Homo sapiens: one gene and its partners. The protein of the gene in region 6 interacts with the protein of the main gene of each other region in a biochemical or structural test. Each region holds a gene or a part of one and is shown on either strand. Other genes may lie near its edges.

Region 1 (4,276 bases), on a different chromosome or scaffold from region 6:
AAATGTAACTCTTCAAAGCTTTAATGATTCAGTGATTCATGATTCAATATCTGCAGGGTTAGGCCATTTATAGAGTAAATTTGCAAGTAAAAACTATTATTTTCTTATATTATTTTACTACCCTTACTTTCCATTGCCAACATAAACTCTTACTTTTTAAATTGTTTTCTGGACAGGCAATTTGACACAAGAAACCCAATATTGTTGCTTTACAAAATTAATAGGTGTGAGACTAGGAGGAGAGAATCCAAGGATAATTGAGTTGTGGAATGTGGAACTCAAATTTGGTCCCCTCATCCTCCATGTAGTCTGCTCCAGCACACCAGTCTTGCTACATGTGTTTTAAAGTGTTCCTGGGCAAAACTATATGCCATGAATCTCCAGGGCCACTCTGAAATCATCCAAGTTTCAGATGATTTTACTGTATGAGTAGTAAGGTTTTGTTCTCTAGCAGAGAAGCTGAGGGCAGTTCAGTAACTCACTGATAGTCATTCAGCTAGTCTCTTATGTCTTAATCTTTTTCTGGTATCTGGATGCTTCTGATCTCCTGATCACTGCTCTTTTAACAGCATAATAAATAATAAAAATGTATCATTTTTTACATCCCCATCAAAAAATTTTTCCTTTAGTTCTTTGATCTTAATAAGAAGGTATATATATATTTATAATTTATTTACTATTTTTATTCTTATAAATTATAAGCCTAAAAGATATCACGATTAAAAATTAATTCCACATATATTTGATATTCTAAAGAACTATTTTATATGAGTTCAGTTAATATTTTTTTAACAGATATTGAAATCAGAACAAATCCAGGTTGACAAACTTGCCCAAGATGTCATTGGTAGTGAGCTGCTAAAATGTTTTAATATATGTTTACTCAATCATGAATGTTTGCATTTTAAATATTTGCCTCTTTAGCAGGGACTAAATGTAGCAAATATTAAAGTGATAACTTTTAATTTTCTCTTTTTCATTTTATTCCCCTGAAACCTTCATCTTTCTGAAGCTTACTGCCCCAAGGCAGGGGAGAATGGCTATTGGTTCTCTTTTGTAGTCTCTCACATTTATCACATCAAGGGTTAATTCTGGAGGGATGAAGTTAAGTTTTCTCCTTATAAAGGGAGAAAACACCCCTTCTGCTTGTGACAACTAGGGCATGAGGCTTGTTGTTCTTTGTTCAGTGGCAGACACAACGTAAAAGGATGGTTTCAATGGCAGCATGGTCCAATGTAGTGTAGGAATGCATCCAGAACCACAAATTGCTTAATGTTTCTGACCCAATACACGCTACTCGCTTTATCCATTCAGTCTGCTCTCAGAAAGCAAAATAGCCTCCACATATTCCCATATGCTTTCTGGATGGAGAGCAGCTGGAAGTAGTAGAGCCCACTGCTGTAGATGAGGTAGAGGGATAGTGGGGGAGAAATGTACCCCTACCGGTTGCCAGGAAATTGTGCAAGGAAAAAGCCTGAGGAAAGCAGGAGACTTACTGGATTGAACTCCTTATTTCTGCTTTCTGCGCTTTGGCCTGAAGAAGGCTATTTGTGTTAGATGGATAAGGGTAACACACAGAGCAGAGGGACCCCTTATCCCTTTCCCGATTTGGGACTCTGAAGACTTCCCTGTATCAGTCTGGAATACAGGAGACACGATAGGCATCTAGAAGTGCAGTGTGGGTATGCAAGAGAGAGGTAGAAGTTTAACCTCTCCAGGACACCTCAGTGCCTATGTGCTATTATTGGACCCAAGAGTTCTCACCATTCTCTGGAAGAAATGTAAAGGCAGCTGGGTTAAGGCCAGGGACCTTAAATGGCCTGGACTGCAAAGGGGCAAGGTGACCCTGCATCACAGGCTGTGTTGAAACAATAGCCATAGTATTTGAGGCAGGATGCAAAGGTAGGAGTTCTATGGGATATGAAACAGCTGAAGTGAGACAGTCAGTTAGAGAGGACTGTTGGGTCCTGAACACACAAGAGAAACCAGATGGCTAAACTTCAACAGTGCATGCCAGCAAGTAAGGAGAAGTCAGACTGACAGTAGCCAAGAAGGACGGAGAACTTTGAGACCAAGGACTCTGACAGTTTTCTCTATTAGGAGTTAATGGAGACCACAGTTCTCTAGACACTATAGAGGAGAGGAACTGGGGAGAGGTGGAAAAGAAGTCTTACAATTATTGAGTTGTACCAACTTACAACTGGATAGGGTTAAAATTATTTTCCCTGCTTTGGTCCCCCACTGGGGGCTGTTGGTGAAGACTTGATACATGATTGAAAAATAAAGGAGCTATACTTTCTGTATATATATATATGGCCTACAATACATGTTAAGTTGCACTTCACTATATATTTCGAATATCTCTATATTCAGTGCCTTCCATCCAAAAGAACTGTTCTGTGAAGTTGGGATCTAGTGTTTTATTTAATCATGCTTCCTAGTGACTAATCGTATTTATGACTCTGATTGGCCCAGTGTAGAAAAAATGATTTCAAGAATAGAGGATAAATGAAAGACAAACAAGGGATTAACTGGAATAATTTCTTATATTTGGAAGGTATTGTAATGAGTGGAAAGGTGGCATTTACAAAGGAAGGCAAAGCGAAGACACAAGGGAGAGACTGAAACGCACTCTGGAGGAAGGGGTCTTGAGTGAGACTTACGGTTCTGTAGAGTTTGAGTCACTGGCAGAAAGCAGGATAAGAAGTAGCACAAGACATAAATGAAGAAGTCTGTCTTTCCGCATTGTGAGGGATAAATCTCAGGGTTGTGTCCAACTCTCTGCCCTCAGCCTCGCCCTGGAGACCAGCTGAGTTTACCAGGCTTTATGTGGCCACTATGTACAAACAAGCCCCACCCCAAGGCCTCTGAATAGAGTTCAGAATTGAGCACAGATTCCCTAAAAGGGTCATTACTCTCAGTGGTTGCCTCATTTTTCTCAAGGCTAAATTCTGATAGGTACTGAGGCATGTCTGGAAGATAAAATTTGTATTCCATTTAGAATGAGCTTTGACAGCAAACCTCCTGATAAGGAACCTTCAACCTACCTTTCTCCATCTCTTTCAAAATCCTTACAAGCAGGTGACAAAGGATGCTGACAAAGAATGTCAGGGACATGTTACCATGATAGTAGCTCATGCATTGCAGATTCATTTCTGGGACTGAGTGAGTTATAACTATAGACTTTAGGGTTTTTGGGTTTTCTTTTTTAGCAGTTGATTGAGTACATGGTCCTGGAAGAAAGTGATATAAAATAAGGATTTCAAGAGTAGAGGATCAATGAAAGATAAAAGAGATAAAAGATCAAAGAGATTTTAGAAAGGAGTTATCAAAGATCACACTTGTCTATTTCACAGCATTGACCTGATCAGATTCTTAGTTGATCCTATCTGTCCTTGTTACTGTCTGAGCACTCTAACGTTTGAGTCCCTTAAACCATGTCATTGACTTTATCTGAGATTTTTTTTTTGAGCCATACTGTGTGCTAAGTGCTATTCTGGTGATGAAAATACAATATTGAACAGGATATTCAGTATCCATGCTCTCATAGAACTTGTAGTACAATGATGATCACATATAAACCACCAGCAGATTTAATGCCATCCTTAGACTGCAGACATTGGTGTCTGTTTACATACTGTATTGCTTGAAACTTTTTAAATCAACTTTCTTTCTCTTTCTCCATATTTCAGCCTAATCATCCCTTCTTTGGAGAGCAAATTCCTGGCCACACTGCTGAAAGTGGATTCCTTCCTATTAGTTTTTATTTCACATCTTTGTTTCTTTTGTCACATTATCATAGAATGAAATAATTTCTTTTAAATTATGAAATGTTATATATATATATACTCACAAATATAGAGAGCAAGATAAAAGACACTCGTACCTTACATGCACCCAACTTTAATAAAATTAAACACTTGCCAAGTTTGTTTAAGGTCATTTCTTCTTAAGAAATGAAAGATGGCAATGGTAGTGCTCTTTTAAAATTTGTCTAGAAGCTTTTCCAGTTTTTACCAGATCCACCAACCCAAAAAAAGAAATAAATCAAGACAAATATGGTTGGAGTTTCCTTTGTAATTCTCTCCAATCTCATTTCCCTTCCAATGTTGTGGGATTAGGAAGTTGATATGTATTCTTCAAGATGTGTTTATGTTTTTAATCCATATTTATGTAAATAATATATAGCATAATTTTGTGTTTTGTATTTTATATGTATAAGTGGTATGCACATATTGTAAAATATGTCATCACTATTATGGTTTTAAGACTTATT
Region 2 (3,500 bases), on a different chromosome or scaffold from region 6:
GCAAGGGATTCTGGAAGAAACATCTATCCAAATTTCTAGATAGAAGGGGAAGATGTAGCTAACAACTCTCCTCTCCTGCTTGCCATGTGTCACAGGTGTTCCACTCTAATGTTGTATAATGAAGGTGTGCATGAAACAACTATTAGGCCTTTGCTTAGTACGTACTTATCATTCTTGTCCTAATTCCTAGGAACAGGTCTCTGATGTCCTTTATTCACTATACAATTTTCCCTGACGAAACTTCCCTGTTTACCTTGTGAAGTCTTGATTAATTAATGGAAAATAATTAAATAAGTTTGGCTGGGGGCCATTGTTAGTAGCACAGGGCTTTCTTGAGTTCAAATATTGCATGTGCTGGGTAAATGACAGCAACCCTCAAAGACTCCAGTGTCATCAGGGCCTGATGATGGAATGAGTGTAGGGAGGGGAAACGTCCAGCACTAGCTACAGACCCAGTGCCACATGGCCCAAGTGGGCACCATGAACCTGGCAACCACAGTCCAGGCAGCTCTCAAAAGGCAGTGCTGTGTACACACACTTCAGTAGGACTAGAATAAGGCCTGCAGCTGGGGGAAGGTCCAGCCCATGTGCTTTCTCAACTCATGAGGGTCCAGTTGGGCCTCCCCAGGCCAGAGTTGTATGTAGAATCCACAGGAACACAGAATTCTGGTGCCTGCCCCAGAAATAGCCTGGAATGCCTGGGGGGTCTGCCTGTGAGGTCCTAATCATGGACCATGAACCAACCTAATTTATTGAGCCTCTCTTCAGCCAGTCAGTTACAAAGACATAATATCTCTCTGTGCCTCTTTCCCCAGCTCTATACAGGTTGATTATCCCTTATCTGAAATGCTTGGGACCAGAAGTGTTTCAGATTTCAGATTTTGGAAAGTTTAAATATGTATAATGAGATATCTTGGGGATGGGATCCAAATGTAAACATGAAATTCATCCCTGTTTCCTATATACCTTACACATATAGCCTGAAGGTAATTTTATACAATAGTTTAAATCATTTTGTGCATGAAACAAAGTTTTGACTGTGTTTTGAATGCTACCCATCACATGAATTCAGGTGTGAAATTTTCCACTTATGGCATCATGTTGGTGCTCAAAAAGTTTCAGATTTCAGCATTTGAGGTAACAAAACTTTTCCTCTATCTAACTGTAGGGTTGTGGAAAGGCAGAAAAGATGTATGTCATGAGATCTGTTCTTGGGGCTTATCAATGTAAGTTTGGAGACTCTTCAGAGGAGATGGGCTGAGACAGGCACTTGCTTGTGCACAGCAGCTGGGGCTGTGTGGGCTGTGGTGCCAGGGTAAAGGAGATAAGAAGGCTGGCTCAAGTGTCAGCCCTGGCCATCAGGAGCCACAGGGATTGAGATCACACCCAGATGAAATTAGGAATGGATTAGATTCCAAATTCCAAGAGCATGGAAGGCTCTTTCTACCTGGGTCTTTCTTTCTTCATTCTGTTACGCTTTCACCTAAGAAACAGTGACTACATCACTGGTTATGGTGAAAGTCAGATTTTGGCCTTATTCAAATTCTAATTCAATTTGGTTTTTGAACAATTTTGATGTAAGAAATGCCAGCTGGGCTGGGGAGCATTTCATTGGTTCATAACAGTCTCTTTGAGATATCAGACCTCTCACCAACAGGCAGCTGCTGACCTAGGAGGAGGCAGTCTCCCTTTGAAGACAGCAGCATGTAAGACTCTGATAATCATCAAAAAGTAGAAAATGAAACCTGTTTTCTCCTGTTAGACACTGCCAGAGTGTCTGGGAAGAGGGGATTTTGTGTCTGTCAGTCATGATCAAGCTTTCTTAGATGCCTGGTTGTGAGAATGTCCTAGAGAAGAGCTACTTTCCCAAAGGGCCTTATAGCTTTCAGAAGGGAGCCTGTAAAAGTGAGTTACTGCTGGAGGAGATGGAGATGTGTTGAGGGGAATGTGGCATAGGTTCTTGGGAATCAAATCTAATAGCAGGTGTCAGTGATGCCTGAGGCAGAGTGCCATCAAAGGGCCACTAAAAAATGGTTACAACGTCCTAAGTGGCCCCTGGGAAGGAGTGTCCTGGGCCCCACACCTCCTATGCTGTAATTGCAGGGCAAAGTCACTGCTCACACACAGCAGGCCCTGCAGGTACCTTTACCATTCGCTCAGCTTTTGAACAGTCACTTTCTTTACATTACTTTCTGTTCCTGTCCAAGTCTCCTGGCTCAGCACTATGATGTGTTTTTCTGTAGAAGAGGAACCATTCTTCCTCTAAGGGCTCTGTAATGTGGGAGTGATTGAGAGAGAGGACAGAGCAAGAAAGGCTGTGCTTTTTCATCTGGGTATGATCTCAAAAACTTGGAATCCAGAGATTTAGTATCTGCCATAGAGGAGAGAAATCTCTATGTAAAAATGACACAAGTGAAGTCTTAAATGACCAAATATCCATTTGAAGCCAACCCAGTATTTCTTCATCTGCGGGTTCTATAGTGTCAGAAAGAGAAATCCACAGACTAGACTGGCATTGGCCACATTAGGTGGCCTCAGAGCTGCCAAGAAAAGTCCTTCATGTGTCTGAAGTTGCTCCTGAGTCCTGGCTGGGTTGGGCCCTGGAAGCATGTGAGGGAGTAGATGGCTGGGGCATCTACCTAGTGAAGAGGGCTTTGGTGCTTGCATGGAAATGTGGGTATCTGAATGTGTCTGCATGTAGGATGTGTCTCTGTGTGGCATGTGAGTCTCTGTATGTGGTGTGTGTGTGCGTGTCTGGCATGTTTTGAGTTTAAGTGTGTCCTTCTCTGTGCTTCTGAGTGTGATATTCTGAGTGTGATGTACCTGTGTGTGTGTCTGTTCTTGTCAATCAGCTGTAAGAATGCCCTTAATTGCTTCTTCTAACTCTCAAGTTCTGTGAAAGATCTGCATGGCATGATAACCCGAGCCATCACTAAATATTATAGCTTCCTTCATTTCTCTTTGTGAAAATAGCATCTCTCCTGCTCCCAAGTGGAACACTCTGTCTCTTCAACTAATTATGATTGGGAACAGCAATATCTAAGTTCAGGAACAATCTCTGGACCCATGAAATGCCAGTCCATTGATTCTTCTCATATGAAGACTCTCTCCAAGCCATTGGCAGTCAAGTTAATGACTTAGAGAAATGTCAAACTAGGCAGGAAAGAGGCCAAAGTGGTCCAGGTCTGGGTGCAATCAGAGGGAATTTTGTATTAACAGCCAGATCCATAAGGTGTCATGGCGAGTAGGGGACAGAGCTTGGCCCTAACTGACAGGTTCTCCAAGACCTTTGTGGCTTTCACTGCCTGAAGGCAGCAGCACATGTGTGTTAGATCCCAAAGACTCCACTGCTTACTCCCACTGATCAAGCTGGTCAGAAGGCAACTTTCACAGCTTCATGAATGATCTATGATGAGGAAACTCAGGGTGTCTGTGCAGGTTTACATTTCCTGTGGTCTGGGAAGGTGTGATCGGGCAATGGGAGGAGGAAGCTTCCCTTT
Region 3 (3,500 bases), on a different chromosome or scaffold from region 6:
TAGTGGATAGGCTAATTGATCACTCAGTGTAAAACGATCACTACAAAAGTTAAAAGGACATAGTTAAAAAAATGGATCCCTGTGGGTTAGAAGTTAGTGAGATGTAGAATATAATCCCATCATCTCAGTTCATAGTGTGCCCAAAGTCAATTTTACTGTAATTTCGATGTGACATTTGAAATGAATCTAGGGAACAAAGTGGCATTTGTTTATGCATTATAATTTCTCAAGTACAGAGAAAAACAGTTCTGATGAAAAACAAAACCCTCATTTAAAAATTCTCTTGGCAACATCTACATCCTTAAACTACTGGAACACAATGAATAATTTCTAATTATCCTGTGTATTGATTTGGTATATTTTTTGCTATAGCCATGTAATTTCCTTGAATCCCAAAGTGTTTCAGGCTGTTGCTGAACTGAAAAGATGAAAAAGGGATAGAAAACTGTTTTTACCCTGTCATCTGGAATTTTATCATTGTCATCGTCATCATCACAGGCATCACCAATTCCATCCTTGTCATAGTCTTCCTGCCCTGAGTTGGGAAGGTTGGGGCAATTATCCTAGGAAAGAGAAGATATATATCACTGCTTCAGTTGCCTTCCTCATGCTGAGCTCATGCACGAGGGAGTGTACCTGGAATTCCAAATAGAAAAAGAACAGAATTTGGCTCAGTAACAGCATATTTTTTTTATGGGAAGACAAGAAAATAAAACTTTTCTTGGGGGATATACATACAGAATTTGTGTAAATGCTCTAGGCTTTATAGATGTTGTGAACACAAGTCATGCTTTGCTGGTATTTGGATAGAGTACTGAACTTTTTTTTGGACAGAAGAGTTGACTATGGAACACAGTTGCCCAAAAAGAGCTAGCCCTGTTCATGTTTTTGGCACCAAGTGATTTAATTTTAATAGGAATTAGTGCCCCTCTCCCTTTGGGAGATTTAATCTTTCAGTTTCATGTCCAAACTTTAAGTATTTAAAATTCCTTAGCCTGTGTTTTGATAAGGTGATGGGCCCTCTTTCTGGAGGCACACAAAGGACCTGGCTCTACCTTTTTGCAGTGGTAAGTCGCATTGGCCACGCACACCAGGTTCTCATTGGGCCAGCCATCCAGGTCTGTGTCCTCCCCGCAGATGATGCCATTGCCAGCGTAGCCAGGCTTGCACTCGCAGCGGTACATGGGGTCGCTATAGTGGCCCAGGTAGTTGCACTTGGCGTTCTTGTTGCAGTCGTGGGTCCCATCCGTGCAGGGGTTACGGGGCTTGCACACCTGAGGGTACACCATGCTGCTGTTACACAGAGCTTTTGAGAATCCTCAGATATCATGGAAACAAGAATCCAGATCCCTGTCATCTCTGAGTAGACAGAGGCTCCATTTGGAAGAGTGTGGGTTACCTCTGTCCCTCCCCATTCTCCCTGAGGCTATAAGCAAACTTTGCTTTATGTTTATTTTTCTTGAATTTGCTCAGCACCTAGGCGTTTACAAGTCCATCTGCTCACAACTTATTCCAGAGCAGCATTTTTAAATATGGAAGACTGTTTTTCCCCTGCAGGATTTACCATGGATTTTCTAATCACGTTTCTAAAACTAGACCGTACATTCATCTCCTCGCCCTTTTTTTTTTGGTGAAGGGTATGAAATTACATTCCTCCCGCTCCCAGTTATTTTGGTCAAGGACAGCTCTCCTGTCCTCTGGTTTACTCGTCTAGTTGACTGTACCTGTTTGTTGGCCGTGGCATGTTCGACACCCTGGCCGAAGGGCTGTGAGCCGGTGAAGCGTGGGGGGCAGGGCAGGCAGTTGTAGCCGGGGTCCGTGTTCTCACACCGGTGCTCTCCATTGTGGTTGAAGCAGGCATCAGGCACTTCTTTGCACTATGGAGGAAATAAGAGCGTGCATCATGTTTAGAAGTCACTGCCATAAGGAAGCGACTGCACAGGTTAGCTGCTTTCCTAGATCCAGAAACTCGGAGCCCCATCAGTTCCTCACCTCATCAACATCTGTGCACTGGATGCCATTTCCACTGTAACCAGGGGGACAAGCACCACATTTCCAGCTGCCATCAGGGTAGCTAGTACACTTCACGCCGGCAAAGCAGGGATTGGACAGGCATCCATCTGAGACAAGGAGAGAGAGACAGTCACAGTAAATGGTTGGTCTAAGCTGCCATACTGCCATGCTGGGCACTTAACACAGTGTAAGATATTATAGGGTATAGGGAACCGATAACTTGTTGGGATTATGTTGTCCACCTGCATCTTAGAGCAATCAAATCGCTCAGGACTAACCAAGCTGGAATCTCCTCGAATGCTGACTGCAGCATTCAGTAAAAGAGCAAAGCTCCTGGGTCGTTTCATCCTGGGCTGCGTGGCTCACCAATTGGACAGTCCTGCTTGTTGCAGATCTGGTTTTCTGTTACATCACCAACGCAGTCCTTGCCTCCAAACTGGGGTGTGGGGTTGTTGCAGAGACGACTACGTTTCTGTACCCCTCCTCCACAGGTGACAGAACAGATGTCCCATGGTGACCAAGGACCCCAGCCTCCATTGACTGTAAGAAGATGAACCACAGGCAACAATTAAGATCAACTTTCAAATCCCTCCCTTGTCATAGACTCTCCTAAGCCCGTTCAAGAAACCTCTGCTTCTCTGACACATGGAAAGAATGCTGGGGAAGAGGGTGAGTTTGTTTTTCATTAAAAGAAGTTGCTGAGCCTGCAGGACTTTGCTTCTGTTTGTTTCTCTAGTAGGTAACCTTCCTGCTCTATGACCCACTGAACTGCAGGCTGCAGATGCCAGGCAACCAGCTGGGCAGAGCTGCTGCCCATGCTCACCCTTGCAGCGGACCTCACACTTACTGGGGCAGGCGTCTTTCTTGCAGGCTTTGGTCTCCCGCGCTTCGCCTTCACAGGGTTTCCCGTTCATCTGGGGGCTGGGAGAGTTGCAGAGCCGGATCCTTGTGATCACACCATCACCACATGTCACAGAACAAGATGACCACGGGGACCAGTGGCTCCAGCCACCATCCTGTTTAACTAAAGTACAGAGTTGATGGTCACAAATGGTTTTGGCTTAGAGACAGCCAAATAGAGGCTCCCATCAGGAGCACGCAGAAGTATTTCCAGGAAATGGTCAATGGCAACTAAACCCAGTGTACGGTAGAAATTGGCTCCTGGCCACATGCCCAAATGTCAACATGGAATGTTTTCTACCAGAGAACGGATAAGTTCGCTGTTTTTATGGGTTGCTGTTAATATCCTAACATTTACAGGGTGCTTACCATAAACCAAAACTCAGTGCTAACTGCTTTACATGCAGTATCTAAATAAAATGCTCAAGATAAACTTATCAAGAACTATTATTATCTCCAAGTTGCAAATGAGGAAAGAGCCTCAGAGAGGGTAAGTTGTGTTCAAGGGTGCACAGCTAAGCAGTGGGATTGGGATCCAGAGATCCTAGAACCCGTGTTCTTAATATACATGCTGTGGAGCTGCCCTT
Region 4 (4,198 bases), 1.5 Mb from region 6:
GCTACAGACAGACCTCATGTGACCCTGATCTCCCCTTTGTGTTTGTGTGACTCTTGCTCAGTCACTGTGCCTTCCTGTGCCTCAGTTTTCTCTCAATCAAATAAGCTAAATGGCAAATGGACTGTGGCTTTTCATGCTATCTGTGAATAAATGTTAAATTATTCACAGTCACCTGACCTAATGCTTGGCACAGTGGAGGTTTCACACAAACAGCATTTATTATTAATTTGCTTCCATGAGAAAGCACCTTTACGTCAGATCCCTGTGGACAAGCTGCTACCTGGTACATCTTCTCTCTTCTGTTTCTGCTTCTGGGGACATTAGTCTTTCTATGGACTATCCTAAGCCTCCTAAGGCAGTTGGGTGATGGCCTACAAAGCTTGTCTTTCTGTCCTCTCCACTCTGAGTATCAGGTGAAGAAAGCTCTGTCCTGGCCCAGATGAGGCTCTGAGGGCTGAGCCCTGGCTGGTGAACAGCTCCAGGAGACACAGTCCTCTGACAGCTGGTAAATCCTTGGTCCCAGTAAGCCCTGCCCAAGAAGCCACAACCCAGTCCCAGCACAGGCTCCTCAGCTTTATCTGGAACAAGGATTTAGGGACAAGGGTCTGGGGTTGAGGCTTCTAGGGCTGAGCTTCTCTGAGAGTATCTCAGGGGGCCCCTCAGGCCAAGCCCTACTCAGTTATCCAGGGTCTTTCTCAGGGTCAAATTTATGAAGAGGGCATGAGGTGCTTGGCTGAGACTGATCTCCTCCTGCTGAGTCCCCCCATCAGACTGTCCTTCCTCTGCAGCGAGTGTCTGCAGGGTCTGGATGCAGGAAAGGAATTCTGATCTGTTGAAATTTGTCTCCTCTGTGTGTGTCCTGCACTAAATGCCCAAATCCCAGCATGGGACATAACGCAGTGAGTGACACAGGCAGAGTCCAGGCCTGACAATCCTGTGTGTGTGAAGTAGAAGTGACCCCTGTCCCCCAACACCCAGGGATCATGTGGAATCACTTACGGTGTAAGGTGAAGGTGAAACGTCCAGTTACTCCTCTAGTCCCATCATCTCCCTTTATGATGTGTAAGGTGTAGGATCCTGCGTCCTCCCGGGTGACATTCTGGATCAGCAGGGATGCATTGGAATATGCTGTTTCTCGTCCACTATATGCAGGCCCATATATAATTATTTCACCGTCTACTACATATGATGTAATGTAATGGTAGAGGTCCCTCATTTGCCCTTTGTACCAGATGTAGCCGGTAAGATTCTGGGGCAAATTGTGGACAAGTAGAAGAACATCCTTCCCCTCGGAAACTTTGGTTGGCTCGGCTTCAATCGTGACTTGGGCAGTGGTGGGCAGGTTCCAGAAGTTTAAAAGTGATGCTAGGAGGTGGAGAGAACATCAGTCAATATTGAGACCTATGTATTGGTGTGAAAACATGGGGCCCTGGGTCCTGAGAAGGTCTCTTCAGTCCTCAGCCTTGACAACACAGACACACACACACATACAAACACACACACACACACACACACAAAAGCGGCATGTGTGATTGTGTGTGTGTATGTGTGTGTGTCCTACTGTCCTACTAGGTCAAGGTCAGCAGCATGACGCCCATTCCTTCAACACTTCTGACGTTGGCATTTTTCTGTTTGGAATCCTCTTCCCCAGGGGTCCGCATGGCCCCCTCCACAATGCCCTCAGGTCCTGCTTACATCAGGGCATCGTTAGACTTCTTTCCTGATGCCTGCTTCAGAGACCCTGGGTCTTCCCTTTCTGACCTTTCCCTGCTCTGCTCCCTCCAGGGTTCTTGTCAACACCTGACCTCACATTCTAGATCTCTTTGCATGTCTGTCTTCCCCCCCATGACAGCGTGAGCTCCGTGAAGACAGGGACTTTTGTGATCTTGGTTGCACCCCAGTGCCTGGAACAGGCTGCAGACTCCTGTAGATGTGAGAGTTCTCAGGGCCCTCCATGCCCTGGGTGTTTTTTTTCCCCCAATTGTTGAGGTTTCTTGCTGAGGACAGTGTTTCCTGCCCTGTTTATATTTTTATTTGAGGTGTCATCTGCTATAGTTATTATTATCATTTTTCAAAATATGGTGGCCCCTGATGATTAATCAGGAAAACAGAACACTTAAGATTTTCCTACCTCTTACCAATTCCGGTCCAATACGACTTTCCTGTTTTGACCCCTGTCCCTCTCTGGTGTATTTTCCCCTATCCAGGCTCCAACAGAGCCTTCTTTCCTTTTTTTCTTTTTTCTTTTTTTTTTTTTGAGATGGAGTCTTGTACTGTCGCCCAGGCTGGCATGCGGTGGTGCTATCTCAGCTATCTGCAACTTCTGCCTCCCGGGTTCACGTGATTCTCCTGCCTCAGCCTCCCGAGTAGCTAGGATTATAGGAGCACACCACCATACCTGGTTAAATTTTTGTATTTTCAGTACAGACAGGGCTTCACTGTGTTGGCCAGACTGATCTTGAACTTCTGATCTCATGATCCACCCACCTCAGACTCCCAAAGTGCTGGCTTCTTTCATTTTTTAGAACCCCATCCTCTCCAGGAGACCCCATCCAGTCACTCTGCTTCCTCCTCCTGTCCTCTCCCAGGAAGTTCTCTCCTCACCTGTGAGCAGGAGCCCCTTCCATTTGATGCGCTGTGTGCAGGGAGGGGCTGAGAGGGTTCCCATGGTCTCTGCTGCTTGTGTGTTCTCCTCTGTGGAGATAAGCCTAGGATCCAGAAACTCTCTGAGCACGGCTGTCAGCTGTGCTGTCCTTCCTCTTTCTGTGCTGAGCCTCTTCCCAGGGCAGGAGCAATTCTCAAGCTCATGGGCAGGGTCAGGCCCAGGACACCTCTCTGTCCCCTCCTCTCTAAGTCCTGCCTCCTTGTCCCTCCTTCTGTTTCTCCTTTTGTCTGTGTTTCAGGTCCCTGGGAATTGTGGCGGCCTCTGCCTTTTTCAGCAGTGATTCTTTCACCAAACCTCAAGACACACTTTGTGCAGACACACAGACACACACACACACACACACACACACACACACAGAAGAGATACACACAGACCCACACAGTCAGACACATACCCTGCAGGTTGGGCAAGAACAGTCCTGGGCCTCAGCCTCCTGGTGTCCCCATGGCTCTGGGTCGGGGTGCAAATTAACGCCCTTTGGCCTCTTTCATCCCCATCAGGCTCTCCCCTTCAGTGCAGGAGGCTGGAGCTGTACCAGGTCCCTGTCAGAATGATGCCCCATTGTGCTGTGGGTGAGCTGTGTGTTGCCTGGTGAGAGGGACCCTTCCTTTCTCTAATCATGTCTAGCTTGGCTGCAGCTTCCAAGGATGGACATTCAGGACCTGGGTGTCCCAGAGGAAACTGTCCTTTCTGGCGGTGTGCAGGGTGAATCTCTCATGCCTCTTGGGAGGAGAGGCCTGTGCTGGTTGCTCAGTGGGGGCTGTGAGTCCCATAGTCAAAGGGACAGTTCTCTGTCAGTCTATGGCTCCCTGGGGTCTGGCGGCTGAGCTGGAGCTCATAGTTTCTCATGTTCTTCCTGACCATCTTTGATGTCCTCTCTTCTCTGCCCAGCTGACTGTCCTGTGGTCACCACACCTTCCCTGTGGTGGTGCAGGAGGAAGTGGGGAGTTACCCAGGAACCCTGCGGGACATGGCTCATTGAGATGCGGGAGGGGGAGCCTGGGACAGAGCAGGGGTTCAGAGCTGGAGAGATTCATCCCAACTTACTCCGTGGCCATGATGGGCTCAGCCCTCCATATGCTGACATACCCAGGGGTCTGTCCTGATGGTTTTGACCTGGCCAAGCTGCTGTGTGTAGAGGAGGAACAGGCAGTGGCCAGAGAGCCTGTCTGGAGGGACATTGCTCTCACCTGAGAGGGCGGGTGGGGGTGAGTTGTGTTCTGAGATCAAAGAGCAATAACATTCCCCTTCTTCCCGCAAGCACACAGGAGAGGTCTGTCTTCCCAAGGGACAGCTGGTGTTAGGTGGCCACATCCCGGATGGTGCCTGTGTGTGACCATCACACGCGCTCTGAGCCCCCAGGGTGCAGCGGGCAGGCAGGTCACAGGGTGCCTGGCTGATTCCCGGGGAGGCTGTGGGCCCTCAGGCAGCCGCTGTTCTGTGTCAGCGCTAGGCTTGGCCTGGGATGCCCCAGAGAACAGGACAGATGGAGCAGGGGTGGGCATTTAGGGAGCAGTGCCAGAAAGAGTTGAT
Region 5 (3,500 bases), on a different chromosome or scaffold from region 6:
AGTAGTTTTGTTCAATTCTAGTATTACAATGTAAGAAAACTACTGAGTCCATTTTTACAGTTTTTAAAATTGTCACAGTGTACCCCATAAATATATACAATTAGTACTTATCAATTAAATAATATTAATTTAAAGATATCTCAAGTTAAGTATCTGACATTTGAAGTAAATCAGGTGCTGACTATACTTTATCAACAGATCATCTATAACCATAAAGATTCTACTTATATATTTATATCCATGACAGCTGAGGTCAAAACTACAGTCATAGATAAAGTAATAGAAAACTAAAAGTGTTTTCCTCTTTTTGAATGAAAAATGCCCTGACCCTCAGTATGTCACAGAGTAAGCCAGCCCCCCAGGGCAGGCCTGTGAACCCAGCACTGTGTATAAATCAATCAGTGGGATATAGGTTCCATGTTCCATAAAATCAACATCCATGTGCATTTACTGAAAACAACCCTGATGGGGTTGTCTGGACTCTGCTAAGAGACACCGTGTGCCCTCTTGGCCAGCACAACCACAGAGACCCTGTAAGCATGCTAAAGACAGTGCATCTCCCTACCTGGCATGACCCGGATTAATGGGCAAAGGCACTACCCAGGGGTGGTTTTGACAGGTGCAGTGACAGTCACATGATTAGGTACGTCAGGTATCTGTGTGAGGCTGGAGGGGCCACCGCCCCACCCCCGAGAGCCCTTACCTTCTGAGTACCCGCACGCCTGGGTCAGAGCCCGGCACTGTGCCAGCAGGGATGCGTGGGACACTGTGACCCCCACCGTACTGCCTTCTTTGCTGGTTTTATACTGAAAGATTTCAAGGAAAAAAACATGATGTGGTATTTCTAGAGGTGACAACAGACAGAATGGAAACTGGTAGAATCTTCAAAAGAAGAAGTGGTCAGTGTCTCTCCTCTAACCATCGGCCTCTAACCAGCAGCCCAGGTACATGGCAAAACCCTGGCCGCTGAGGGGATGCTTCAGTGGAAGTTGTGGCTCCTCTTGGGCAGGTGCCCGAGGGTAATGGTGCGCCATGGGCTCCCTCATAACTGTCTGCATCCCCAGGGAGCCAGTTAGGAGAGAATTAGATGAGAGAGAAACCTGGAAGGATCTGAGCAAGGATTTATATGACACTCTGTATTTCCAGGGCAGAGATAAAACAAGAACTCTTAGGCCGAAACTTAACAAAAAAGAATAGCAACTTACATTCTTATGAAAAGCAAGACTTAAGCCTGTGGGACATGTTTTTACATTCTCTAAGTTAGGAACAGTCATTACCTCAATGTAGGCAGTCCCAGTCCCTGTGTCCTGGGCCAGAGGGTGCCAGTCCTTTGGGGGCTTGGCTAGATGCTTCCCATCAATCACTAGCCAGGAGAGCGGGGGCCAACCTGTGACACACAGACAGGACACAGAACAGCAAGCAGTCAGAGGCATCTGCTCCCCACACTCGAAGCCTGCGCCTCCAACATGCAGCACTAGCTACTGAGCGAATAAGGAGTGCAAGTTTTAGTCTCATTTCATTTTATATAATTTAAAAAGGTACATCCGGCCAGTGGCTACCACATTAGACAGTACAGGTCGAGACATGAAGCCAGATGAAAACCGAGATTCACCAAGGACTCGAACAAGGGATCACTTTTGCTGAAGACCCAGACACCTCTGTCATGTTTAATTTCTGGAACACCATGCATTTAACACAGACCACAGTCAGAACACTGACTCCCCTTCCCTTGGGAGGCCTCACCTTTGAAAGCTGCCACCTCTCCTGTCTGTGCCTTGGGGAGGCCTTTCTGACAAGCGTCTGTGGTCAGGGCCAAGAAGACTCCACAGCTGCCCAGCAGAAACCCAACCTGCTGGCTGCCTGCATCCTGCAGAAAGCAGAGTGACCGTGTGGGGTGGGGTGCTCACAGCAGCCACAGCCCCAGACCCTTGGTGCTCCAGGCCATGCACAGAGAACAGATCTTTTTTTCATCCCTCATAAAACTTCCAGAATAATTCAGTCCCATTATTGATATATATGATCTTTTCACGGAAATAGTTCATGAAAATGTGACAACTATGTTTAAATTTAAAAGATAATTTTGGTTTGTATTTGTGTTGAAATATAAAGTTTAATGGGCTAATTTCTCAAAGTTTATTCTTACAAATGACATTTAGAAGCATTTTTAATAAACTCCAAAGTTAATGGCATTGAAATTTCTATTGAATCATGTTTGAAATTTACAAATTAATCTAGAGAGGCCTGGTCACCAACGATATTAAATTATTTCCACACAGAAACACATTTCCTTGTAGCCAAGTCTTCTGTGTCCCTCAGCAGTATTCTGTCATTTTCTTCATATAAATTTGACAAATCTCTAGTTTTACTCCTAAGAACCACTGCATTCAAATACCTGCCCATCACATATTATGCTTTGAGATACACTAGTTTGATTTGCAAATTTTACTTTTGGGATTCTTGAATATTTCTGGATAATGCTCCTGTTAACAACTGCCTGAATTCTGGGACAGGATGACAGAAAACTGATTTTCTCAAATTCATGCCTTGTCTATTTTTTTTCAGTAATCATATTATTGATAGTTATATCAAAAATGTTACAGATACCTAGATCAGCAAGACCCCACATTAATAATTTATCAGCAACAGAAACTGCCTACGGTCATATAAGTGAACAGAAATGCAAGATAATTTCCATCTCGTTTATTCAAAACTGCCACTGAGAAGTGAGCTATATCACTGTAATGATATATTTATCCCTAAGAAATAATAATTATTTTCTATAAACATATGGTTTTGAGGAAAAGTTGAACAAAATCTTATTGAATCATAATTCTATTCATTAGAGGAAAAAATGGCTATCATTTCTGTTGGGAAATTCATGTAGATGATAGAACAGCTCCACCTAATAAGAGTGTGGTGTGGGAGCATCACCAGCAAAACGGTTCTCAGTGCCCCTCTCATTAACAAGAAGAGAGGCAGGCAAAACGGCATCTGATTTCTCTTGAGTCCTGGCCAGCCTGTTGACTACTAGCTTTCTCTCCTCTGTCAAAACAGCTGCTTGCTGCCTGCCCACATGAGTGAAAAGGAAGTAAGATACTGCTGGTATCAAGTTCAGAAGCGAACCACACGGGACCTGAGCCATGGGTTTGCTACCTTTCTTGTTAATGGCACTTCTATGGGGACAGGAACCAGCTCTGCCAGGAGACACCCATAAAATGCAACCATGAACATCACAGGGTCACTATTCGGAAACACGAGCGCCACCTACAACAGGACAAAGAAATGAATATTCCAAATTTCCAATTTTTACAATATCTAGTTAAATTAAAAGCTAGTTATAAATAAAATTTTTGTAAGCCCCAAATATTGTAATAATTGTGCTTGAAACCATAAGGGACAAGTCCAAATAGTATTTAACTGAGTAGAGACAGTTGACTCAGGGCCTTTGAGAACACGCAACAATGAATAACCAATAAGTGCTGACTTTGTAAGACAAAATT
Region 6 (3,500 bases):
ACATTGCAATTGGTTGATATGTCTCTTAGGATTTTTTTTTTTTTTTAATTTTTGAGATGGAGTCTCACTCTGTCACCCAGGATGCAGTGAAGTGGTGCAATCTCGGGTCACTGCAACCTGTGCCTCCCAGGTTCAAGTGATTCTCCTGCCTCAGTCTCCCAAGTAGCTAAGACTACAGGCGCCTGCCACCATACCCTGCTAATTTTTGTATTTTTAATTATTTATTTATTTTTTTGAGACGGGAGTCTCACTCTTGTTGCCCAGGCTGGAGTGCAATGGCGCGACCTCGGCTCACTGCAACCTCCACTTCCTGGGTTCAAGCAGTTCTCCTGCCTCAGCCTCAAGAGTAGCTGGGATTACAGGGCCCGCCACCACGCCTGGCTCATTTTTGAATTTTTAGTAGAGAGGAGGTTTCACCACGTTGGCCAGACTGGTCTCGAACTCCTGACCTCAGGTGGTCCACCCACCTTGGCCTCCCAAAGTGCTGGGATTACAGGTGTGAGCCACGACAGCTGGCCTGATTTTTGTATTTTTAGTACAGACAGGGTTTCACCATGTTGGCCAGGCTGGTCTCCAACTCCTGACCTCAAGTGATCCACCTGCCTCAGCCTCCCAAAGTGCTGGGATTACGGGTGTGAGCTACCATACCTGGCCTCTCTTAGGACTTTTTTCAAAATCTACAAAATCATCTCTCTCTCTCTCTGTATATATATTCAGGGTCAACTATATATAGACTGACCCTTGGACATGGGTTTGAACTACATGGGTCCTCTTACAAAATTCACCACTTACAGGTGAATTTTTCTTCCACCTCTGCCCTGAGACAGCAAGACCAACACCTTTTCTTCCTCCTCCTCAGCCTACTCAACATGAAGACCTTTATGATAAGCCACTTCCACTCAATGAATGGAAAATATACTTCCTCTTCCTTATGATTTTCTTAAGGACATTTTCTTTTCTCTATCTTATTTTTAAAATGCAGGCATAGGCCGGGAGCAGTGGTTCAAGCCTGTAAGGCCAGCACTTTGGGAGGCCGAGGCTGATGGATCACCTGAGGTCAGGAGTTCAAGACCAGCCTGGCCAACATGGTGAAACCCCGTCTCTACTAAAAATACAAAAATTACCCGGGTGCGATGGCGGATGCCTGAAATCACAGCTATTTGGGAGACTGAGGCAGGAGAATTGCTTGAACCTGGGAGGCGGAGGTTGCAGTGAGCTGAGATCACTTCACTGCACTCCAGCCTGGGTGACACAGCTAGACTCTGTCTCAAAAAAAAAAACAAAGAATACGGCCGGGTGCGTGGCTCACCCCTGCAATCCCAGCACTTTGGGAGGCTGAGGCGGGTAGATCACTTGAGGTCAGGAGTTCAAGACCAGCCTGGCCAACATGGTGAAACCCCACCTCTACTAAAAATACAAAAGTTAGCCGGGCATGGTGGCAGGTGCCTATAATCCCAACTACTCAGGAGGCTGAAGCAGGAGAATTGCTTGAACCCCCGGGAGGTGGAGGTTGCCGTGAGCTGAGATTGTGCCATTACACTCCAGCCTGAGTGACAACAGCGAAACTCCGTCTCAAAAAAAAAAAAAGGGGATATAGGACATAATACATAAAACATGCAAAATATGTATTATTCGGCCGGGAGCAGTGGCTCATGCCTGTAATCCTAGCACTTTGGGAGGCTGAGGTGGGCGGATTGCCTGACCTCAGGAGTTCAAGACCAGCCTGGGCAATACGGTGAAACCCCATCTCTACTAAAATACAAAAAATTAGCTGGGCGTGGCGGTGGGCACCTGTGGTCCCAGCTACTCGGGAGGCTGAAGCAAGAGAATCACTTGAACCCGGGAGGCAGAAGCTGCAGTGAGCCGAGACCGCACCACTGCACTCCAGCCTGAATGACAGAGACTCTGTCTCCAAAAAAAAAAAAAAGTATTAATCAACTGTTTATGTTGTGGATAAAGCAGAATTCCAGTCCACAGTAGGCTATTAATAGTTAAGTTTTTGGGGAGTCAAAACTTGTATGTGAATTTTTGGTTGCATGGGGGGTACGTGTGTGTGTGTGTGTGCTTTCCCCTTCTTTGCATTGTATTTGATGAAGAAACTGGGTGAGGTTTCTTGCAGTCTGAGTTTTGCTGACCATTTCCTCTGTTCCTGTCTTTCTAGAAAACTGTTAGGATCTACAGTCCTGATCAGATTCAGGTTTGATTTTTTTTTTTTTTTCCTGAGACAAGGTCCTGCTCTGTCCTGAAATGCAGTGGCGTGATCCTGGCTGACTGCAGCCACAACCTCCTAGGCTCAAGCACTCCTGCCTCAGCCTCCCAAGTAGCTGGGACTACAGGCACACACCACCCAGCCAGCTAGTTTTTTTGTATTTCTTGTACAGAGGCAGGGTTTTAACATGTTGCACAAGCTGGTCTTGAACTCCTAAGCTCAAGCGATCTGCCTGCCTTGGCCTCCCAAAGTGCTGGGATTACAGGCATGAGCCACCGCACCTGGCCTTCAGGTTTGATTTTTTGCCAAGACTTCCTAGGCAACATTGGGTCCCTCCCTACGGAGGCTGACATGGCTGGCTATCTCCCTTTGTAATGTCAGGAGCTGTTGGCACTCAAGACCTCAATTTGTGGCCGGGCGCAGTGGTTCATGCCTGTAATCCCAGCACTTTGGGAGGCCGAGGCGGGTGGATCACGAGGTCAGGAGTTCGAGACCAGCCTGACCAACATGGTGAAACCCAGTGTCTACTAAAAAAACCAAAAATTAGCCGGGTGTGGTGGCACACGCCTGTAATCCCAGCTACTCAGGAGGCTGAGGCAGGAGAATCACTTGAACCTGGGAGGCGGAGGTTGCAGTGAGCCGAGATCACGCCACTGCACTCCAGCCTGGGCAACAGAGCGAGACTCTGTCTCAAAAAAGACCTCAATTTGTTCATTGACAGCGTTGCTGGGCTGATGGCGCTAAGATCTGGTGGTGAAGGAGCCTGGGAGCAGGGCTGATTTTCTGGCAGGGAAACAGCCGGTAACAAAGCCCAGAGACAGGACCAAAATATTTTAAGCAAGGGAGGAATAAGGTCAGATGATCACTCTAAATTTACAACATTCTAACTCTCCATTTCAACTTTCTAGGAATCCAACATTTCAGCTTTCTTAGATTGCAGTATTAGCATTCCAGCATCTTATGATTCTAACATTCTGACAGCATCTTCAACTCTCTAGGATTCCCCCTTTCCAACCTTTGAGGATCTTGGCATTCCTGAATTCCAGTATGCCAGTATTGCATCCCAACATTCCAAAGTTCTGAGCCATCACTCAAGAGGTTCAAACTGACACTTTCTTTCTTTTTTTTTTTTTTTTTTTTTTTTAGATGGAGTCTCGCATCATTGCCCAGGCCGGAGTGCAGTGGCGCGATCTCGGTTCACTGCAACCTCCACCCCCGAGGTTCCAGTGATTCTCCTGCCCCAGCCTGGGTACCTGGATAGCCGTAATCCCAGCCGAGTAGCTGGGATTAC
Region 7 (2,577 bases), on a different chromosome or scaffold from region 6:
ATTTACAAAGTGCCTAGAACACTATTTTTTTTTTTTTTGAGACGGAGTCTTGCTCAGTCACCCAGGCTGGAGTGCAGTGGCGTGATCTCGGCTCACTGCAAGCTCCACCTCCCAGGCTGGAGTGCAGTGGCGTGATCTCGGCTCACTGCAAGCTCCACCTCCCAGGTTCAAGCCATTCTCCTGCCTCAGCCTCCCAAGTAGCTGGGACTACAGGCGCCCGCCACCACGCCCGGCTAATTTTTTCTATTTTTTTTTTAGTAGAGACAGGGTTTCATCGTGTTAGCCAGGGTGGTCTCAATCTCCTGACCTCGTGATCCGCCTGCCTCGGCCTCCCAAAGTGCTAGGAGTGAGCTACCGTGCCCGGCCTAGAACACTTTCTGGCACGTAGAAAGCACTCTATCAGTTATTTGTTTTTCCTTTTTTTTTTTTTTTTTGCACTCTATCAGTTAAATACATACATGCATACATACGTGCATACATATATAAATAAAGTCTGCTTCTAAAGGTTAGAGAATCCAAGTTTATTAGAAACACTCCAACAAAAAACAAAGGTGAGAAGAGAGGGCCCAGCCCACCTCCACTCCTCCCTTTCCTCCAGAACAGAATACCAGTTTGTATCCGGCAAACTGGCTCCTTCCCCAGGGTTGGTCCCAGTGGGGATTTACATGGCACTGCCAAAGCAGGACGGGAGCCCTAGTCCTCAGGGCACTGCAGGATGTCATAGGTCACGTAGCCCACTTGGTCCACCTGGTTCAACTCACTCCGGGAACTCACGCGCCAGTAGAAGCGGTCCTGGCAGAAATAGGCTTTCTCTGCAGGAGACAGGCAGGCATAAGAGGAGTGATTCTAATTCTCCCACATATACAGAAATAGGAACAAGATCTTGACAACCATCTCTTCTGCCATTTCTAGAACTTTCTAAGGTTTTCACATATCACCTCCATCCCCCCAACCTGTGAGATGCTGTGAGGTTCTGTGAGATGCTGGAGGGCACAGACCTCAGTGCCCAAAGCACTGCCACAGAGCCTAGCACACAGTAGGTACACCATACACATTTTGTGAATGAATTAACAAATGAATAGACCAACTATCTTAATGCTCAGAACAATTCATTCAACGCTCATTCATTGAACAAATCTGTTCATTCATCATTTACTGAGCATCTACTATGTGCTTTGTTCAAGATACTGGGGATAAGCAGAAAAAATGCAGGCATGATCTCAATTATCTTGGTGCTTACACTCTAGTGAGGCAAGAGACAATTAAGCAAACACATAAATAAATGAGATTGGTTTTGAAAATATAGAAAGCGGCTGGGTGCGGTGGCTCATGCCTGTAATCCCAGCACTTTGGGAGGCTGAGGCGGGTGGATCACGAGGTCAGGAGTTCAAGACCAGCCTGGCCAAGATGGTGAAACCCCGTCTCTACTAAAAAATACAAAAAATTAGCCAAGCGTGGTGGCAGGCACCTGTAATCCCAGCTACTTGGGAGGCTGAGGCAGGAGAATCGCTTGAACCCGGGAGGCGGAGGTTGCAGTGAGCTGAGATCGTGCCACTGCACTCCAGCCTGGGCGACAGAGCAAGACTCCATCTCAAAAAAAAAAAAAAAGAAAAAAGAAAAAAAAAGAAAATATAGAAAGCTATGGAGAAAATAAAAACAAGTAAATAGATAATAAGCATCAAAGAAGGCCTCATTGAAGCAATGGCCTTAGCACTGAAACCTGAAGGAAGACAGTGGGATGGCCCAGTGACAATCTGGAGGGGAAGCTTTCCAGACAGAGGGAACAACTGGCACAAAGGCTGTAAGCTAGGAATGACCTTGATCTGTTCAAAGAGCAGCCAGTGTGGGTGGAGCAGAGTAAATAACAGGAGGAGTGGGAAGAGATGAGAACACGGGGGTGGAGTGTCAGATCCTCTTAATTTCTTTGACCTTGGAATTCATCTGGGGTCACTCCCAAGACCATTGCCCTTCACTCCTACCCCCTCTCTAATCTCATGGAATTTGTTAAAGGTCCTGGACAGCCAGTATGGTTTGGGCTGGGGTGTTTATAAAGAAGATGGCAAAAAAAATGACAGACTCGAAAAAGATTTTGGTGGCAGGAAATCTTGTTCACCTTGTCAACTGTTTGGATGTGACTGGTAAGAAAGGGAAGTCAAGTGTAATTCCAGCTATAGTCCCCATATTACAGATGGGGAAACTGAGGCTCGAAGAGTAGAGAAGCAGTGACTTGCCCAAAGTCACAGAGCTGTGAATTGTCTTATCTCTCCCTGTAGCACAGTGCCTGGCACATTATCGGCACTTGATGACTGTTGTCTAATAACTGAGCTTCCATACAAACCACCTGCCGTCCTGTACTGAAGGAGAAAGAGCTTCCAGCCGGGGAGGCAGGAAATCTGGGTCCTGGTCTTGGTTGCATCCCTGACTTCCTAAATGACCTGGAGAAGGCCTCTGCCTCTGCTGGGATCTTGTCTGTGCTGGGGCATTTGTTTCCATTTCCAAGGGCTTTTTCTTCCTCGCTCAGAATTTGACCACTCACTAAGAGGAGCTTAGTGTGGTGTCTCACGAAGGGATCCTCCT

Evidence for each region.
Region 1: the proteins of TGFB1 (region 6) and PZP form a complex in vitro, tested with the Homo sapiens proteins (one study listed by BioGRID).
Region 2: the proteins of TGFB1 (region 6) and FSTL1 interact in a biophysical measurement, tested with the Homo sapiens proteins (one study listed by IntAct).
Region 3: the proteins of TGFB1 (region 6) and THBS1 form a complex in vitro, tested with the Homo sapiens proteins (one study listed by IntAct).
Region 4: the proteins of TGFB1 (region 6) and PSG1 form a complex in vitro, tested with the Homo sapiens proteins (one study listed by IntAct).
Region 5: the proteins of TGFB1 (region 6) and DIP2A interact in a biophysical measurement, tested with the Homo sapiens proteins (one study listed by IntAct).
Region 7: of the proteins of TGFB1 (region 6) and MMP9, one has a biochemical effect on the other in vitro, tested with the Homo sapiens proteins (one study listed by BioGRID).

Annotation. Positions count from the first base shown.
Region 1 is NC_000012.12:9,205,596-9,209,871, forward strand, and holds the start of PZP (pregnancy zone protein precursor), read right to left. Parts: upstream 2,801-4,276; 5' UTR 2,747-2,800; coding exon 2,664-2,746; intron 1-2,663. UniProt on the Homo sapiens protein: Is able to inhibit all four classes of proteinases by a unique 'trapping' mechanism. This protein has a peptide stretch, called the 'bait region' which contains specific cleavage sites for different proteinases.
Region 2 is NC_000003.12:120,405,993-120,409,492, forward strand, and holds part of FSTL1 (follistatin-related protein 1 precursor), read right to left. Parts: intron 1-3,500.
Region 3 is NC_000015.10:39,587,579-39,591,078, reverse strand, and holds part of THBS1 (thrombospondin-1 precursor), read right to left. Parts: intron 3,038-3,500; coding exon 2,861-3,037; intron 2,554-2,860; coding exon 2,380-2,553; intron 2,121-2,379; coding exon 1,993-2,120; intron 1,878-1,992; coding exon 1,725-1,877; intron 1,275-1,724; coding exon 1,056-1,274; intron 564-1,055; coding exon 456-563; intron 1-455. UniProt on the Homo sapiens protein: Adhesive glycoprotein that mediates cell-to-cell and cell-to-matrix interactions.
Region 4 is NC_000019.10:42,876,914-42,881,111, forward strand, and holds the start of PSG1 (pregnancy-specific beta-1-glycoprotein 1 isoform 2 precursor), read right to left. Parts: upstream 2,801-4,198; 5' UTR 2,669-2,800; coding exon 2,605-2,668; intron 1,366-2,604; coding exon 1,000-1,365; intron 1-999.
Region 5 is NC_000021.9:46,531,891-46,535,390, reverse strand, and holds part of DIP2A (disco-interacting protein 2 homolog A), read right to left. Parts: intron 3,265-3,500; coding exon 3,154-3,264; intron 1,868-3,153; coding exon 1,744-1,867; intron 1,388-1,743; coding exon 1,278-1,387; intron 807-1,277; coding exon 704-806; intron 1-703. UniProt on the Homo sapiens protein: Catalyzes the de novo synthesis of acetyl-CoA in vitro. Promotes acetylation of CTTN, possibly by providing the acetyl donor, ensuring correct dendritic spine morphology and synaptic transmission.
Region 6 is NC_000019.10:41,336,923-41,340,422, forward strand, and holds part of TGFB1 (transforming growth factor beta-1 proprotein preproprotein), read right to left. Parts: intron 1-3,500. UniProt on the Homo sapiens protein: Transforming growth factor beta-1 proprotein: Precursor of the Latency-associated peptide (LAP) and Transforming growth factor beta-1 (TGF-beta-1) chains, which constitute the regulatory and active subunit of TGF-beta-1, respectively.
Region 7 is NC_000020.11:46,014,485-46,017,061, reverse strand, and holds the end of MMP9 (matrix metalloproteinase-9 preproprotein), read right to left. Parts: exon of another isoform or gene 2,274-2,577; intron 813-2,273; coding exon 694-812; 3' UTR 501-693; downstream 1-500. UniProt on the Homo sapiens protein: Matrix metalloproteinase that plays an essential role in local proteolysis of the extracellular matrix and in leukocyte migration. Could play a role in bone osteoclastic resorption. Cleaves KiSS1 at a Gly-|-Leu bond.